2 separate regions of the Homo sapiens genome follow, and region 1 is linked to region 2. Evidence: fine-mapped expression QTL. Tissue or cell type: platelets. Region 2 holds a variant in brackets; the other region holds the start of a gene. All regions are shown on one strand. Distances are from middle to middle.

Region 1 (8,099 bases), 810 kb after region 2:
TGTTGAAATGACAACAAAAGATTGAGAATATTATATAACTTAGTTGATAAACCAGTGTGAGAGGTCTAATGTGGGTAAACACTATTAAACAGCAATGAGAAAGAACAGAACCAGAATAGTGGCTCTACATTACACGCATGGCTTCCATGTTGAAAGACAGTGAGACATGGCTGGGCGCAGTGGCTCATGCCTGTAATACCGGCATTTAGGGAGGCCAAGGTGGGCAGATCACTTGAGGTCAGGAGTTTGAGACTAGCCTGGCCAACATGGTGAAACTCTGTCTCTACTAAACATACAAAAATTAGCCGGGCATGGTGGCAGGTATCTGTAATTCTAGCTACTCAGGAGGCTGAGACAGGAGAACCACTTGAACCTGACAGGCAGAAGTTAGAGTGAGCCAAGATCACGCCATTGCACTCCAGCCTGGGGGATAGAGTGAGACTCGTCTCCAAAAATAAAAAATAAAAAATAGAAAAAGAAAGTGAGATATAAAGGAAACAATAACATATGTTTTTTGTTTACGTAAAATCCAAAAATGGATGAAAAGAATTCATGGTAGTTTTTTCCATATCAGCTAGGTAATGTGCCAACATCATAGCAAAGTTTGAGGAAGGCACAGGTCATACATGAGCATGAAAACCCAATCATTATGCCTATGAACTACAAAAGAATCAAAGAATCTGTGGTTTTAAAAATCAGAATAGCCAGGCACGGTGGCTCACACAGCACTTTGGGAGGCTGAGGCAGGTGGATCACGTAAGGTCAGGAGTTCGAGACCAGCCTAACATGGTGAAAGCCCGTCTCTACTAAAAATACAAAAATTATCTGGGTGTGGTGACGGGCGCCTGTAATCCCAGCTACTCCGGAGGCTGAGGTAGGAGAATTGCTTGAACCCAGGCGGTAGAGGTTGCAGTGAGCTGAGATCGCGCCATCACACTCCAGCCTAGGCAACAGAGTGAGACTTCATCTCCAAAAAAATAAATAAATAAATAACTAAATATATATATATATATATATATATATGGAATATAATTTTGTATTTAAAATGTACAATACAATTTATACTTACACGTATCATCTTACCACTTGCTTTTTTTGCTTAATATTTTATTTTAAAATTTATTCACATTATTTCCCCAGTTATTAAGGGTGAAAAACTTAGAGCATGAAAAACCAATATGTACTTACAATAAACTGATTTTCAAGTTGGCAATATTATTTGCAGTGGTAAAACCTGCATCATTGAGGGTTTCCCACTTCAGGATTAAATTGTGCCAATCAGCCGCATTGTCCTTAATTTTTCTTGCACTGACAGATAAGACAGGTTTTCTGGGCGTTACAGTTCCAAGAGTCTTTGCTGATAGGGTATAAAAGAAACAAAATTATTATCATGGAATATACAATCATAGTTGGAGGGCAAATGTCCTTATAATTTTCAACAGTAAAACTATCTGAAATGCTGTATCAACTGGACAAATAAATGTGGAAACTACAAAGTCTGAATGAATGTGAAAGTTCCTGGAAGAAGACAATATAGAATATTTTTAACATTTTAAAATTCACCAGATAGAGCTGAATCCTCTTCCAGCTTAATGGCTCCACAAAGTTTTTACCTTAAGCCCTTTGTTTTCCAAAGATTGGAAATAAGGTAAAGTTGTGACTGTCTGCTAAAACTCTTCAATGGCTCACGTTCCCTTCCCTACAGGATAATCTAGCCCTGACTCCCGAGTACTTCCACTATCTAGTCTCAGGCACTCTGATACTTTAAATTTGCTCAGAGTAGCGTGGCCCATGAGTGCTAATCATTTCAAGACACTGAGACAACAGAGATGCAGAGTTGATCACGATGCTGCCACTGCCCTTCTTGGTAATCAGGAGGAAGTCCAAAATCCTTCCAGACCTAGCTACCCCTCCACATCATCACGTACATCAACCCACACCTTGGCCCCCCGTCAATATCCAGCGAAAATGAACTACTGGCAGCTCTTGAAAAGCTGAGGTGCCTGCAGGCCTTTACACGTGTTCTCTCTGCAGGAAAGCTCCTTCCTTCCTCAGGCTCACGATGCCCATCCTCCAAGATGCACCCGGATCCCACTGCCTGTAGGAAGCAACCCCCAGACCACCAAGAGCCAACTCAGGTTGTTTGTTCTCCCCGAACCCTCCTGTGCCCTCTTGCCTTCTCTACTTTGAACCCCACAAAGGCTTCTCACTGCCCACAGGATAAAGTCCTCTTGAGGAATCCAGGACACACAACAGCTGGATGGTTTGATGCCTCAAGTCAGAAGACCACACTGCCTGCGTCTGAACCCCAGCTCGCCAGCTGTGAGATCTTGGGCAACTTAATGTACCTTTCAGAGCCTCAACATTTTCATCTGTAAAATGGGAATAAAAATAGTATCTATTTCATAGGATTGCTGAGATTAGATAATATATGTGAAGCTGTGAGGCCTCGCACAAGGCAAAAACCCAGTATCTCACCTGTTAGCTCAAGGGCCTCTACTATCCAAGCTCTGCCCACCACTTCAGCTTCTACCCTTTCCCACTTGCCCTCTGTGCATCAGAGCTGGCTCTGTACAAGTTCTGACTTTGACCTGGAATATTTTTCCTATCTGTGTGTGTCCCCACTCCCCTGCCTCATACTTAGTATCCTCACTTTAAAATATCATCTTGATTTATCATTCATTCTTTACTTAAACAACAAATATTTGCTTACTGCCTACAATACGCCAGGCATGGGGGAATGAAGTGATTGAATGAGACGGACCAGGACCGTTTTCATGGAACTTACTTTCCAAAGGGGAGGCAGATAATAAACAAATGACCACGATCAGTTCAGATCATGATTAAGTGTGTGTGGAAAATAAAACAGGGTCTTGTGTTAGTGTGATCCCCTGAGAAGGTGTCGTTTAGGCTGAGATTTGAATGATGAAAAGCCAGAAATAGGGTAGGTCAGTAGTATGTGCCCTAATTATGATAATGAGGTTGGTGAGTTCAAAAAACAGAAAACAAAACAAAACAAACAAGCAAACAAAAAAACCAGTGTGCTGGAATGAAATAGACAGAAAAGGACTAGTGCGTGAGTAGGTGATCAGACAACTAGAACCTAATAGGCCAAGATAAGAAGTTGGACCGAGGGCAGTGGCTCACGCCTGTAATCCCAGCACTTCAGGAGGCCAAGGCGGGCGGATCACGAGGTCAGGAGATCGAGACCATCCTGGCTAACACAGTGAAACCTCATCTCTACTAAAAAAATACAAAAAATCAGCCGGGCGTGGTGGCGGGCGCCTGTAGTCCCAGCTACTCAGGAGGCTGAGGCAGGAGAATGGCGTGAACCCGGGAGGCGGAACTTGCAGTGAGCCCAGATCGCGCCACTGCACTCCAGCCTGGGTGACAGAGCGAGACTCCGTCTCAAAAACAAAACAAAACAAAACAAAACAAAACAAAATAAAAAAATGAAGTTTGGACTTCTAAGTATTAGCTTGGTGCAAAAGTAACAGATTTTGCCATTACTTTTAACAGCCAAAATTGCCATTACTTTTGCACCAACCTAATACAATGGGGAGTGAGCAATGAGCTCTGGATAGGGCAGTGAAATTATCTGATTTAGGTTTTTAGAAAGTCATTTCCACAGAGAAGTATTCCTGGATCCCCCAGGTTGGGTTACGACTCACCACTAGATATGTGGTACACCCTATAATTCTGCTATCATGATATTCACCAGTGGAGTGTATTTGCTTGTTTAATGTCTATATTCCCTGCTAAACTGGAAATTCGACTAGGGTAGGAACTATGTCTCGTTCTCTTTCAAACCTTCCACACATAGGAGGCTTTGCATAAAATGAGGTAAATGGAGGAATAGCTCTTACCACCTGTTCTATAATTGTCTAAGGGTTTTCCCCCCAACAGGAGATTCTGAGGGCAGGATCACATCTGATTCATGGTCAGCCTGACTCATACGGGGCACATATTTAGGAACCAAAAACATAACTGACTTCAAGAAACTCAAGGGCTGGTAAAGACAGACCAGTCATCAGCGTCACAGGACAGGGTAGGGTGAGGGCACAGTGGCTAAGTTACTTATCCCCTCTGAGCCTCGATTCCCCATCTGCAAAATGGGGTTGACATTACTTCATGGGACCACTGTGAGGTTCAAATGAGATGATCCACTTAAAGTGCTTGGAGCAGTACTCAGCAAACTGAGCACTAGGCGAAAGCCAGCTTTCATTACAAGCAGAATGTTCTGACTGAGGGCAGTTCAGAGAGGAGTTTCTGGACGAGATGAGCATGCAAGGCTTGGTACCCAGTGAACTCTGTTAGTACTAATTTATAGTGACAATAATTACAATTTGGATGTCGGATCTGCTGACACTCATTTGCGTATATCGTCCCGTTCATCTGTCACTGCACATGTGAAAAAACGGAGGCTCGGCAAAACTGTCTCCCGAGCAGCTCGCAGAGGCTGCGAGGGGCCTGCGGGCTAGGCTGGGGTAAGACAGAGGACCTCCATTTAACCTCATGTAATCCGGGGAGCTCCTGAGCTTCTGGTCCAACCTGCGGCCTAAGCAGTAACATTCACAGCCACCCCACCCCGGGAAAGGAACCGATCTCACGCACCTTCCATAAGGTCCACAGATATCCGTAGAAGGAGACGCGAAGCCCCGCCCACCCCACCGGAAACGCATTTGCGTCACGTCCGCCCCGCCCGCTGCCACTTGTGGCTCTGCCGCTCTAGCCCCCGGCGGAGCCAGCTGCTGCTCTTCGGTGCTGGCCCCGGTGCCGGCCCCGTTGCCCAGGGAACAGGCTCCCGGCAGCCCCCGCGGCCCGGAGTCCATCCCGCCTCCTCCGGCCCGGCGGGGCCGACGAGTCCGGAGGGGCTGCCGCGGGAGGTGAGTCCGGCGACGCCGCAAGCGGCCCCGACGCCCCCGACGCCCCCGACGCCTGGCCCCGAGCCCCTCCTCGGCCTCCCCCGGGCCACTCTTCCCTTGCCTCAGCCCCGCAGGGTCTCCATGCCCGTCCGCCCCGTCTCCCTCGCCCGCGGTCTCGCCCGCGCGGAGTGGCGGACACTAAATGCCACAACACACGGAGCGCCTGGCTCGCCGCCCGCAGAATCCGGCGGTCCGCAGCGGGGAACAGGGGCCGCCCGCCCCTCCTCAGGCCTCCGCTGCGCGTCCCGCGCCCTCGGCCCCCGGCCCCACCCTGCATCCCGGCTGCCGGTCTGGCCGCGGGCTCTGCTCCTTCGCCTTAAGATTGACGTCGTGTTCTGTCCCCCACTCGCAGCCCGCGTCCCTTACATCCGCCCACCGGCGCCTGGCCCCAGGCCTTGACACTCATCCAGTTGGTGTTCAGTGTTCGATGAGTGGATAAGTGAATGACTCCTTTCCCAATCCTATTTGAAGGCATGGGAGGCAGAATAGGTAGTAAGTGTTAAAGGATGGGGTGTCCTGGAGTCAGAGCCGGGCAGGTCCCAGCGGCCCCTTCCTAGCTCTGTGCTGGGGCAAGTGCCCTACCTCACTCCGCTCCAGTTTCATCACCAGTGGAATGGAGATGAGAATAGTTTCTACCTCTGGCTTGGTAAGAGGATTAAATGGGTCAGTGCATGTAAAGTTAAGCACGGTGCCTGCCGCTGTACATTTCAGTAAAGGGGAGCCCCTGCTGTCATCTGTGCTAGCCTGCGTTCTCGCCCTCTAGTCCCTTCTGATATGTCTCTGACTTCTCATGACTTTAGTTTCTCCTTCTCTACCTCCATTTCTCTTCCCTGCACTTTTTTCTTCCTCTCTTATTGGGATTCAGGAATTTTATTCTGTTCTGTGACTTATGTTCCATGTGTTGGCAGAATGTGGGATACCAGCCTGGGTGCATCCTTTTCTCATCTATTGGAGTGACCAGTTGCACTTGTGGACTGCCTCCTTGCAGCCAAGGTCTTGTAGACAGAGTTCTGGGAAATCTCAAAACGCAAATCCCAGGCATAGGTAGAATCTGGGAATGAAGCCACTGTAGCTCCTTGTGATCACCAGCGATTCCTGGTCTTTTAGGCTGCAGGACTTTGTGTTTTCTCACACCCAGCTATAATGTACCTTGATAAACCTCTGACCTTATTTTTGTTGTTGTTGTTGTTAACCTGACTTACGTCCCATATTGGTGGTTATTTGGCCATCGTGTGCCAGCACTGTGCCAGGCTGGCTCTAGGGATGCTGTGGTGAACCAGACAGACCCTTCCTGAGGTCACTGCCTCAGAAAGATCATGGTCTGGCCCATGAACTTTAAAAGGGAGAACTAAGTGCAGGTGTAGGGGACACACAAATTGAATTTTCAGGACTGCCTTGGAAAACCAGTGGTGGGGAAGATGGAATGAGGATAACCCTCTTCTGAAGGAGTGACTAGGAAGTAGCTTTTGTTAGGCATCAGCTATATTATACCCACGTGTCTTTTTCAATAGAAGACTGGCATCTACTGGATTTTTTTTTCCAATTTTTTCTTAAAGAAGTTACACTTAAGTTTGGGGAGAATTTCATTTCATATTAGCCGCTGTAGGAGTTGAAAAAAATGGCTACTGGAACTTAGTGGGAAGAAAAGGAAGGAAACAGGCATCAGGCAGAGGCAGTTGATTGAACTTGGGAAGATGAGGAATAGATCAGGAAAGGGTTATAATGAAAAGCTTTGGTGTCAAGCACGAAGAGATTTCTAGATTCAGTAATGCACAGAGAGATCAGTAAAATTAGAAGGGAGTAGTTGATGGCTTTGCGAATTGCTAAGGTAGAAGGGAGCTGTTACTCAAGATGCATGTTCAATTTAAAATGAATGTATTCTTTGGACCTGGACATAAGAGTTCTATTGACTTTTTGCCACTATTTTATATTTAGGGCTGTCATACTTGGGTGAATCTAGCACAGTGCTTTGAGAGAGAGATTCATTCAACAAACGTGTATTGAGCATTGATTGTACCATACTCTTTATTGGTCTTTTAAAGCACCACAAAGTATACAGACTAGAAGAACATAGGTGAAGATGAGAAAGAGTCCATTGAAGGGGAGAGAAAACAGATAATGATGGTGCTGTGCGATAACTGCCATCATGGAGTTCTGTGAAAGCAGAGAAAGACCAACCAAGTATCTGAGGGAATTTATGAAGGCTTCCTGGTGGCGGAGGACTAGTTCTTACAGGGCACATGTGGGGGAATAGGGAAGAGTGGAAAGGGACTTTGTTCTGCAGAGACATACAGGTTATGGTGTGTGCAGGGACTGTGATGGAAAGCTGATGGATGCACAAACAAAACGTGGCCTGTCTACACAATGGAAGGCTGTTCAGCAATAAAAAGGAACGAAGTACTGATTTGTGCTACAACATGGAGGAACCTTGAGAACATTAGGCTAAGTGAAAGCAACCAGACACAAAATACCACATATTATATGATTCAATTTTGATGAAATCTCCAGAATAGGCGAACTGTAGACAGAGAGGAGATCAGTGGTTGCCCAGGGCTGAGAGAAGAAGCGTGTAGAGGGGTGATTGCTAAAGGGTAGGGAGTGCACAGTGTGTGGATGGAAGAGTGGCCTGAGATGAAGTTAGATATAGACTGTTTTGTCATAGTGTCTAATTTCCATGCTTGTGTTAGGCTTTAGCTTGTGACCATTGGGTAGCCAATGGGGATGGGAGCAAGGAAGTGACAAAATTTTGTCTGGAAGATAAATGACTGCCTCAGTCTCATTACGTTCCTCCTTAATAATTTAATACTCAAATAATTAATAGATGTCGTAGCCAGATTTCAAACATAGATTCTACAATAGGGATACAAATTGTTGCTTCCTAGGGATTTTGGAGAGAATCCTGAAACCATTAGTGTACCCAGAGCACTCTGATAACATGGTTATTGTACAGCGAAGTGGATGACTTAGACTCTATATTAGTCCTAGCTCCAGTTTGAGAAATCATCCATCTGGGTGGCAGTTGGGTGTTAGTAGTCAGCAGTGAAGGCTAGCTGCCACCTTCCAGGGTTATGAGATTGACAGGGCTAGTGGGGAAAGGAAGCATCGTAACTTGAAGGATGCCATAGGGTGGTGTTTTGTATTTTTTTAACTGAAATAGTCATGACTAAGGAAGCA
Region 2 (8,099 bases):
AGGTGAACAGATCAACAAAATGTGGTAAATCCATAAAATGGAATATTATTCAGGCCTGAAAAGGAAGGACATTCTGAGACATGCTGCAACACGGTTGAACCTTGAGGACATCAAGCGAAGTGAAACAGGCGAGTTACTAAAGGACCAATCCTGCAAGATCCCACTGATGAGAAGCACCTGACGTAGTCAGACTCATAGAGACAGGAAACGGAACGGTGCTCGCCGGGGGCTGGGGGAAGGGCAGAAGGGAGAGCTGGTGTTCAATGTTTCAGTCCTTCAGTTTTGTACAATGGAAAGAGTTCTGGAGATTGGTTATCCAATAATGTGAATACCCTTAGCACTACTGAGCTGCTACTTAAAAATGGCTAAGACAGTAGCCAGGCTCAATGCATAATCTGGTCACCCCAGCTACTCAGGAGGCTGAGGCAGAAGGATCTTTGAGCCCAGGAGTTCAAGCCCAGCCTGGGCAACATAGTGCTCATTGTTTTTATCTTAAAAAATGGATAAGACGGTAAATTTTATGTTACATGTATTTTACCACAATTAAAAATTTTAAAAAGGTAGTGGCTTTGAACTGCACTGTCCACTCAAACTAATTTTGTACAGTCAAGGAACTATCAGTTGATCACTGTATTACACCGAAGCTGAAGGGAACCCCATTCCCAAAGCAGGAGAAAGCAGGGCTGCCCAATTTGGAGTGGGGGTGTGTTAGTTCGTTTTGTGTTGCTATGAAGAAATACTGAGGCTGGGTAATTTATCAAGAAAAGAGGTTTATTTGGCTCATGGTTCTGCAGGCTGTACAAGCCTGGCCCCAGCATCTGCTTGGCTTCTGGGGAGGCCTCAGGAGGTTTTTACTCGTGGTGGAAGGCAGAGTGGGGAGCAGGCACACCACACGGTGAGAGAGGGAGCAAGAGAGGAGGAGGGGACGCCCGGCTCTTTTAAACAACTAGGTCTGCCACGAACTGATAGGGTGGGAACTCACTTATGACCGTGGAGAGGACGCCAAGCCTTTCGTGCGGGATCCACCCCCATGACCCAAACACCTCCCACCAGGCCCCGCCTCCAACACTGGGGAATCACATTTCAGCATGAGATTTGGAGGGAACACACATCCAAACCATATCAGGATGGGACCTCAGAGCCCACCTTCTCAGCCCCTCACTCTTACCTCCGCACCGGGTGACCCTTGGCACTTGGAACTCCCATCTCCACACCTCTCCAGCCCCTTCCAGGCAGGTGGGTCTTTGAATCGAGGGCTCCAAAGGTAGACAGATGCATCCTTTCCTGACTTTCCTGGCCAGAGTTGGAGGAGCCCTTTGTTCTCCCCTGGAGGTTTCCGAGGGATGAGGTCTGGCCCACAGAGCCAAGAGGTATGGGTACAGGGGAGATGAGGCAGATGGGGCAGTAGGTGGGACTCACCTGAAGGGGCAGCCGGGGCTAAGGGAGCACATGGGCAGCCTCTAGGGGCCCATCTTTCTGCAAAATTCAAAACTCCTAGAAGGGAAACCCCGCCTCCTCCTCTACAGCCATTTCCAGGGATTCCAAGGTCGTTCATTTAAGTGTAAGAAAAGTCCTGGTGGAAAATATTTGTTGTTACAAATGGAATGTTTCCATTTGGTTTCATTAAGTCCACCCCCTCCACCCCACCCCACTCCGGGGAAAGCTGGGGATTGCAAGGAAGAGGAGGGTGGAGGAAGAGGGGTGCTCCCAGTAAAGCCATTTCACCCGGAGAATTCAATCTGGAGAGGAACCAACGTGCAAGAGTGCCTCTGTCGCCATGCCCTTATGTGTGTGATGTCATCCGAGCCTCATTCTGCAAGGAGGACTGTCACCCCCATGTCACAGAAGAGGCATCAGGGCCACTGAGCCATTACTGACTTCCCCAGCATCCCACAGTTACGTGGCACGCCCAGCACTCAAACACACAGACACATCCCTCTGTGACTCCAGAGCACCACAGGCCCTAAAAAGCAGTCTCCACGCCGCGGCTCGCCAACCTCTGGTTAGTAACCACTTGATCATTCTGCAAACAGCTGATCAACTTCTCTATCTGGATCTATTTTAACTAGGATACATTTTGGCTACTGTAAGAAATGCCAAAATAACAGGATTAAACAGGACAGCGCCCCCCCACCCCCACCCCGCCCGCCCCCCGCATAGCAGGCTGAGCTTCAGCAGTCTAAAGCTAGCGTGGTGGTGACACGGGCACACAGGCTTTTTGCAGCTTGTTGCTCTGTGATCCTCAACACCCAGCTTCCCTTCCATAATCCCACGGCTGCCCCACTCCTGCCATCACCTCATTAATCCAACTGTGGGAACAGGGAGAAGAAGCGGGGGAAGGCACCTCTCTTCCCCCTAAGGTCAGGAACCCGAAGTTTCACAGGTCACTTCTTCTGCGTCATTGGCAAGGATTTGGTCAGATAACTACGTGTAGCTGCAAGGGAGGCTAAGAACTTGAATCTTTACATGAGCAGCCACGTGTCCAGCTCAAAGCTGGGATTTCTTTTACTTTAGAAAGAAGAGGAAAACGGATACTGGGGGCAGCCAGCAATCTCTGCCACTGGGACACAGTCTTCACCCCTTTGCCAGGACCATGGTGAGCCAAGGTCATGGGGAAAAGGTAACTGCCATCTGGCGGGGAGAGAGGTGATTGGATGAGGAATCGGAGGAGGCTTCCTGGGAGGTCCGACATTTCGGCTAAGCCTCGAAGGACAGGTAGGGCTTGGGAAGTTGAGATGAAAGGGAGCTCCAAGAGAAGGTGCAAGTAGCCAACTTGTATGGGTGGGAAATTCTAGCTCAGTGAGAGAGCCTGAACTTTGAGCCAGGAGACCCGAGTTCGAGTGCTGATGCACAGCCCACACAGCCGTGCACGGGTTTCCTGAGCCTCAGGTGGCTTCCTCACTAAACGGCTGGGGGTCCTCAGTACGTCCCCTTGCAGGCCTGCTGGGGGGGGCAGGCATGTGGCAGGGCAGCTGTGGCAACATTTCCCTGGGCGGCGGGGGTGTCAGTTCAGTGTCAAGCAGGGACAGGGGCTGGAGCTGAAAAGGGAAGCAGAGACCCCATCTGGAAGCCCTGAAGGCCAGGCCAAGCAGTCTGGATGTTTTTCAAAAGCTGCAGTCCGTTCCATGGTAGGGCAGCCCCGCAAGCAGAGAGCGACTCTAAAACATGAAGACATCTAGAAGACAGAGAGGAGGAGATGAGATCAGAGATGTAGAAACCCAAGAGGAGGCAGCTGCAAAGTTCCCAGGGAGACAGCATGGAGGGGATCAGGCCAGAGCCAAGGAGCCCTTCCATCCCAAGCAGGCAGTCAGGGAAGACTTCCTGGAGGAGGCAGCCCGAAGCTGTCCCAGCCAAAGCAAGAGCTGTTTAGAGCCCAGGGAGTGGGGCTGCGGGGAGGGTTTGCCCTGGAGGGGACCAGCCACAGAAGGAGGGACCAGCCAAAGCCAGGCCATGCCCAGGGACAGACAGGCCCCACCGCTGCCTCGAGATACCCCTACCCCAGCCAATGTGAGCACCTCACGGAGCACAGGCTGCACCTGGCACCACATCCCCATCCCAGTGAATCTTCCCAGTGACGTCACAAGGTGCAGATCCTTGCCCAATTAATGGAAGAAGAAGCTGGAGCCCAGAGAGGGTCGGCCACTTCACTGAGGCCACACAGCAAGGATTTGGGTCCGGCAGTCAGAACCAGTGTACCCAGCACTATTTGACCCTTCCTGGGGCCGGGGGTGTCATTCAGAAACACTCTGACATTATCGTCCTGGTCTCTGGAACAAGAACTGCTCTATCCACATCCCATCCACAGCCATCCCTTACAAGACAGGGACAGAGATGGAGTTACCCCATTGGACAGAAAAACAAACTGAGGCTCCAAGAGGTGAAGTCGCACGCGTGGGTCCGCGGCCCATCGGTGGCCGGCAGGACTTGAGTCCAGGTCCTTCTGACTCCGTGTCCTGATTCTCGGTGATTCTTGCTGAGGCCTTTCTCTCCCCTCCTACCCCTCC[T/TC]CCCCCCCCCCACCATCGCTGTTTTCCTGGCTCCCTCTCAGGGAAAAGAACATGCTCTGAGTCTCTGTTTCCCTGGGAGAAATCCATTTTCAGAATCTGGAGGTGTTGAAATGTGTTCTTTTTTCCTCTCCAAAGAGCCCTTCTTGAGGACAGAGGTGCCCCCGGAATCCCTCCAAGGCCAGCACCGGCCGGGTGGGGGGTGGGGATGCTGCCTGTAGGGGCCAGGTCTCGGAGACCCTTATTCACCCAGGACAAGGAGCAGTGGGGGCACTTCAAGAGCTCAGAGCACACCCTGGCCCCCCAACCCAGGACCACCCGCCCTGGCCTCAGAAGACCCCACTTGCTATCCCTGCCTGGTTCCTGGCAACAGGCTTTGTGGCTCCCAGTAGCAGGGCAGTCACTGAGCCTGCCTGGTGGAGGTGTCCAGGGGAGGGTCCGTGGTCTCCACCAGACTGCCACCCTCCCCATGACAGCTGGGCTCCAATGGTCGCGGTCGCAGAAGTCTCTTGCTGTAAGGAGCCCAGCCCTCTCTGTGAGCATCTCCTAATGCGTGCGGAGCCAGGCCCTGGGGAGCACGGGCTGGTGGGTGCAGGGGCTGCTTGCCACGTGGGGAAGGAAGGAAAGAGGCTGGGAGGGGCAGGTGGGAAGGGGCACAAGTGGATGAGATAGAAGGGGAAGAGGGAAGGGAGGAAGAGACGGGGGAGGGCGGAGGGAAGGGAAGGGAGGAAAAGGCAAGGAAGGAGCTGGAGAGGGAAGAGGAGGCGGGGGGAGGAAAGGGAAGAAAGAAGGAAGAAGCAGGGAGAGAAAGAGAAGAGAGGGAAGGGAGGGGAGGAAAGGATGGGGGAGGGGAGGTGGTGGCTTGGTGTCCGCATACACCATCATCCTTCCTTCAGGCCCTCTCTCCCAGTGCACTCCCCTTACACTTGCCCAGATGCCTCCCTGCCCTTCCTCTTTCAAAATGCGCTCCAGCCTGGGGCCTGGGCAGCACCCCACCTGTCCTGGCCTCTCCACCCAGTGCTTGCATCTCCTGACCACAGCTTCCTGCAGCTGGACTAATCCCTCTCAGGGTTCCAGTCCCTTCCCCCAGGCTGCCCTCAGCTCCTCCAGGTCCCCACTGTACTCACCCCCAGTAGGGACCCCCAGGAGGCCTCGGTTCTCGGGAAGCAGTTCCTGGGTCTCCTAGAACCTATGTTCCAAAATTGTGAACCCGTGGATCCCACAGGCCTGGAAGGCCCATCAAGGCCAACCTACTCAGGACCCACTCCCCAGACCCCCACAGCGTCCCCGAGGAGGGACTCCCGGCCTCCATGTTCCGAAAGGAACGGACAGAGCTGGAGCTCAGGCACAGCGAGTCCATCGCCCCCAAGACTGCATCTCCGGGGACAGCCCCGAGCGCCCGGCACCTGCCTGGGGGATGACACAGGCCCCATCTGCCTAAGCGTGGTGCCCAGACCCTGGGACTGCAGCCTTTCCCATCCACGTGGGACATGTCCCAGCAAGCGGCAGCCTCCTCGTCCTTCAGGGTAAGTTCTCCAGGGCTCTCCAAGAGATTCTCCCTCAAATGCGCCACGTCCCTTCCCTCCTGAGGGACTTCCATGCTCCTGGCCTCCCAGCAGGTCTCCCTGAGAAAGCTCCTGGCCACCCTGAGATGCCGGGATTTTATCTCCAGGGCAACAGGAATCACTAGAGGACCTGAGGCGACAGCACCGTGGGAGAGATTTGGTTTGTGAGGCGAGGGAGGTTGTCACTAGAGACTGGGTCCGTGCCCGTGCTAGGGTCCCACACGCTGCTCCAGCTTGGCTCACAGCACTCCGGCCCAGCCACCGAGGACACCAGGGGACCCAGGGCCAGGATGTCCATGGTGGCCTCAGGGAGCCCCACTGCAGGTGGTCATGAGGCTATTCTGCCGCCCCCCACCCCACCCCCAGTGCGAACCCACAGAACCCTCTACATCCCCAAATGCATCACACTGAAACTCCAGCAGAGTGATTGCTGTACGGGTCATAAAACTACCTGTAGGAAGCAAGTCCCTGCAGAAGCCCCCAGTATCATCATCCTGTGCTGCTGGCCACAGGGGAGAGAATCAGGACCAGGCTGTGCACGGGTTTATAAGGACAGCCACACAGTCTTCTATGGGTTACAGCCCCACCTCCTCCCGGACCCTCAGTCAGTGCTCTGGGGCCAGCATCCAAGCCAGCCAGTCATTCCAGCACTCACCTCCCAGACCAATAGCCCACAGAATAGGCTCTAGTCTGGGTCATCAGAAAAGTGAAAGTGCTGCAGATGCCAAATGGATGGATGGATGGACCGGTGGGTGGATGCAAAGATGGATGGATGGATGGATGGATGGATGGATGGATGGATGGATGGACAGGTGGACGCAAAGACAAATGGATGGATGAATGGATGGATGGATGTACTGGTGGGTGGATGCAAAGATGGATGGATGGATGGATGGATGGATGGATGGATGGATGGATGGATGGTTGGATGAATGGACAGGTGGATGCAAAGACAAATGGATGGATGAATGGATGGATGGATGGACCGGTGGGTGGATGCAAAGATGGATGAATAGATGGATGGATGGATGGATGGATGGATGGATGGATGGATGGATGGACAGGTGGATGCAAAGACAAATGGATGGATGGATGGATGGATGGATGGATGGATGGATGGATGGATGCATGGACAGGTTGGTGGGTGGGTGGATAGATGGATGGATGGATGGATGGACGGATGGATGGATGGATGGATGGATGGACTGGTGGGTGTGTGGGTGCATGGGCGGATGGATGAACTGGTGGGTGGGTGGGTAAGTGGATGGGTGGAGGAATGGCCTGAAGGGTGGGTGGGTAGACATGCTATTCTACCTCTCCACCTCCTGGTTGGACTTTGGACACATGCTCCCCTCAAAGAGCCTTCATTCCACAGCTCTGCAAAGGGCACAGAGATCCCTACTGCAGGATTAACATGTGAAAACACACTAAGCTTAATATCTGGCACACAGTAGGGACTTAATTAAAGTTTGAAAACATCCCTGCTACTTCTGCCTGCCAGGCAGAGTAGTCTGTGCCCCCATCACTGTGCTCCTGAAAAATAACTCAGCATGGATTTTCCACAGTCATCCGGGTAACTCCATCTCCAGCATCTTGAACTGCTTAACTGCAACAGGCTCCTGTCCCAAATAAAACCACCCGCCCCTCCCAGGAACAGCCACCCCCTAGGAAGGGAAGGGAGACAAGGCTACAGAGCCCTGCTTCCAAGGGACCCCCTACTCCCACCCCAACCCTTCTGCCCACAGAATTACCCTGCAGACCAGCTCCCAGGCTCTTAGGGTGAGGCCATTAGAATCATGGAAAAGGGTTCACATCACATACCCATCCCCCAACCCTCAATCCCTGCACGCTCCACCCCCCACCTCCACTGAGGGGGGCTTGCAGAAGAGGAAGAGGCAAATAATTAGAGGCAGAGACTAGGCCTGTCCCCTCTTTCTCTCCATGGCTCACTCTCACCCTTACTCTGTCTCTCTACAAAGAGACTGAACCACAGCCCTGGGTGGTACCTTTCAAATCCCAAGTCCAGCCTCTATGGTACAGATGAGGCCACAGAGGCCCAGGGGGGCAGGACAGCACCCAAGTCTCCTGGCAGGACCATGGCCAAGAGGGATGCTGGGTCATTCCCTGGTTTGTCCCATACGTCTGTGCCCTTCGGAACACAAGAGACCTCTAGCCTCCCACCCTGTCCCTGAAGCTGCCTTCCTACGGCTATGGAGTCCACCAGCCTTGGCTGCGGTTGTGGTAAGTGACGTGGCAAGGATCTGTCTTTCCCTCAAGACAGGCCTAGGTCTGGTCCAGCTGGAGCACCCGGATGGTGGGTGACGAGCACATGATCACCATCAGAAGTCCCAGGGTGACGCCCTGGCTCACTCCCTGTGACAGATTGCAAAGAGCCCTAATCTTCACTTCTCCCTGCACCAGACCCTTGGCTGAGCAGCCTCACCGGGCCCTCTGCTCCCATGTGAGTGCTCCCCCATGACTGCCGTGAGCCCATGCGGGGTGAGCAGACACAGCACAGGCGGCTCCCTGCCGC

Alleles and levels. Alleles are on the strand shown, and positions count from the first base shown. SD is a standard deviation of normalised expression in the study named.
With allele TC in place of T in region 2, the expression in platelets of the gene that starts at base 4,711 in region 1 is higher (large effect, 1.7 SD a copy in CEDAR).

Evidence for each region. PIP is the estimated chance that this variant, and not a neighbour inherited with it, causes the effect.
Region 1: TECPR2 starts here. The variant in region 2 is fine-mapped to the expression of TECPR2 in platelets (CEDAR, PIP 0.95).

What each region holds. Positions count from the first base shown.
Region 1 is chr14:102,358,231-102,366,329 of GRCh38, forward strand. TECPR2 (tectonin beta-propeller repeat containing 2) reads left to right here and starts at 4,711. Exons shown (of 20, transcript NM_014844.5): 1 at 4,711-4,886. It overlaps CINP (cyclin dependent kinase 2 interacting protein), which reads right to left and starts at 4,660. Exons shown (of 5, transcript NM_032630.3): 1 at 4,615-4,660; 2 at 1,189-1,357. The coding sequence starts at 4,621. LOC124903427 (small nucleolar RNA U13) reads right to left here and starts at 672; the gene lies at 569-672. RefSeq lists silencers at 4,705-5,114, 5,155-5,244.
Region 2 is chr14:101,543,946-101,552,044 of GRCh38, forward strand. LOC105370673 (a long non-coding RNA gene) reads right to left here and starts at 1,721. Exons shown (of 7, transcript XR_944222.2): 1 at 1,169-1,721; 2 at 1-55. It overlaps LOC105370674 (a long non-coding RNA gene), which reads left to right and starts at 1,917. Exons shown (of 3, transcript XR_944224.1): 1 at 1,917-2,002; 2 at 2,515-2,715; 3 at 3,133-4,019. The variant T/TC (reference allele first, on the strand shown) is at 4,005.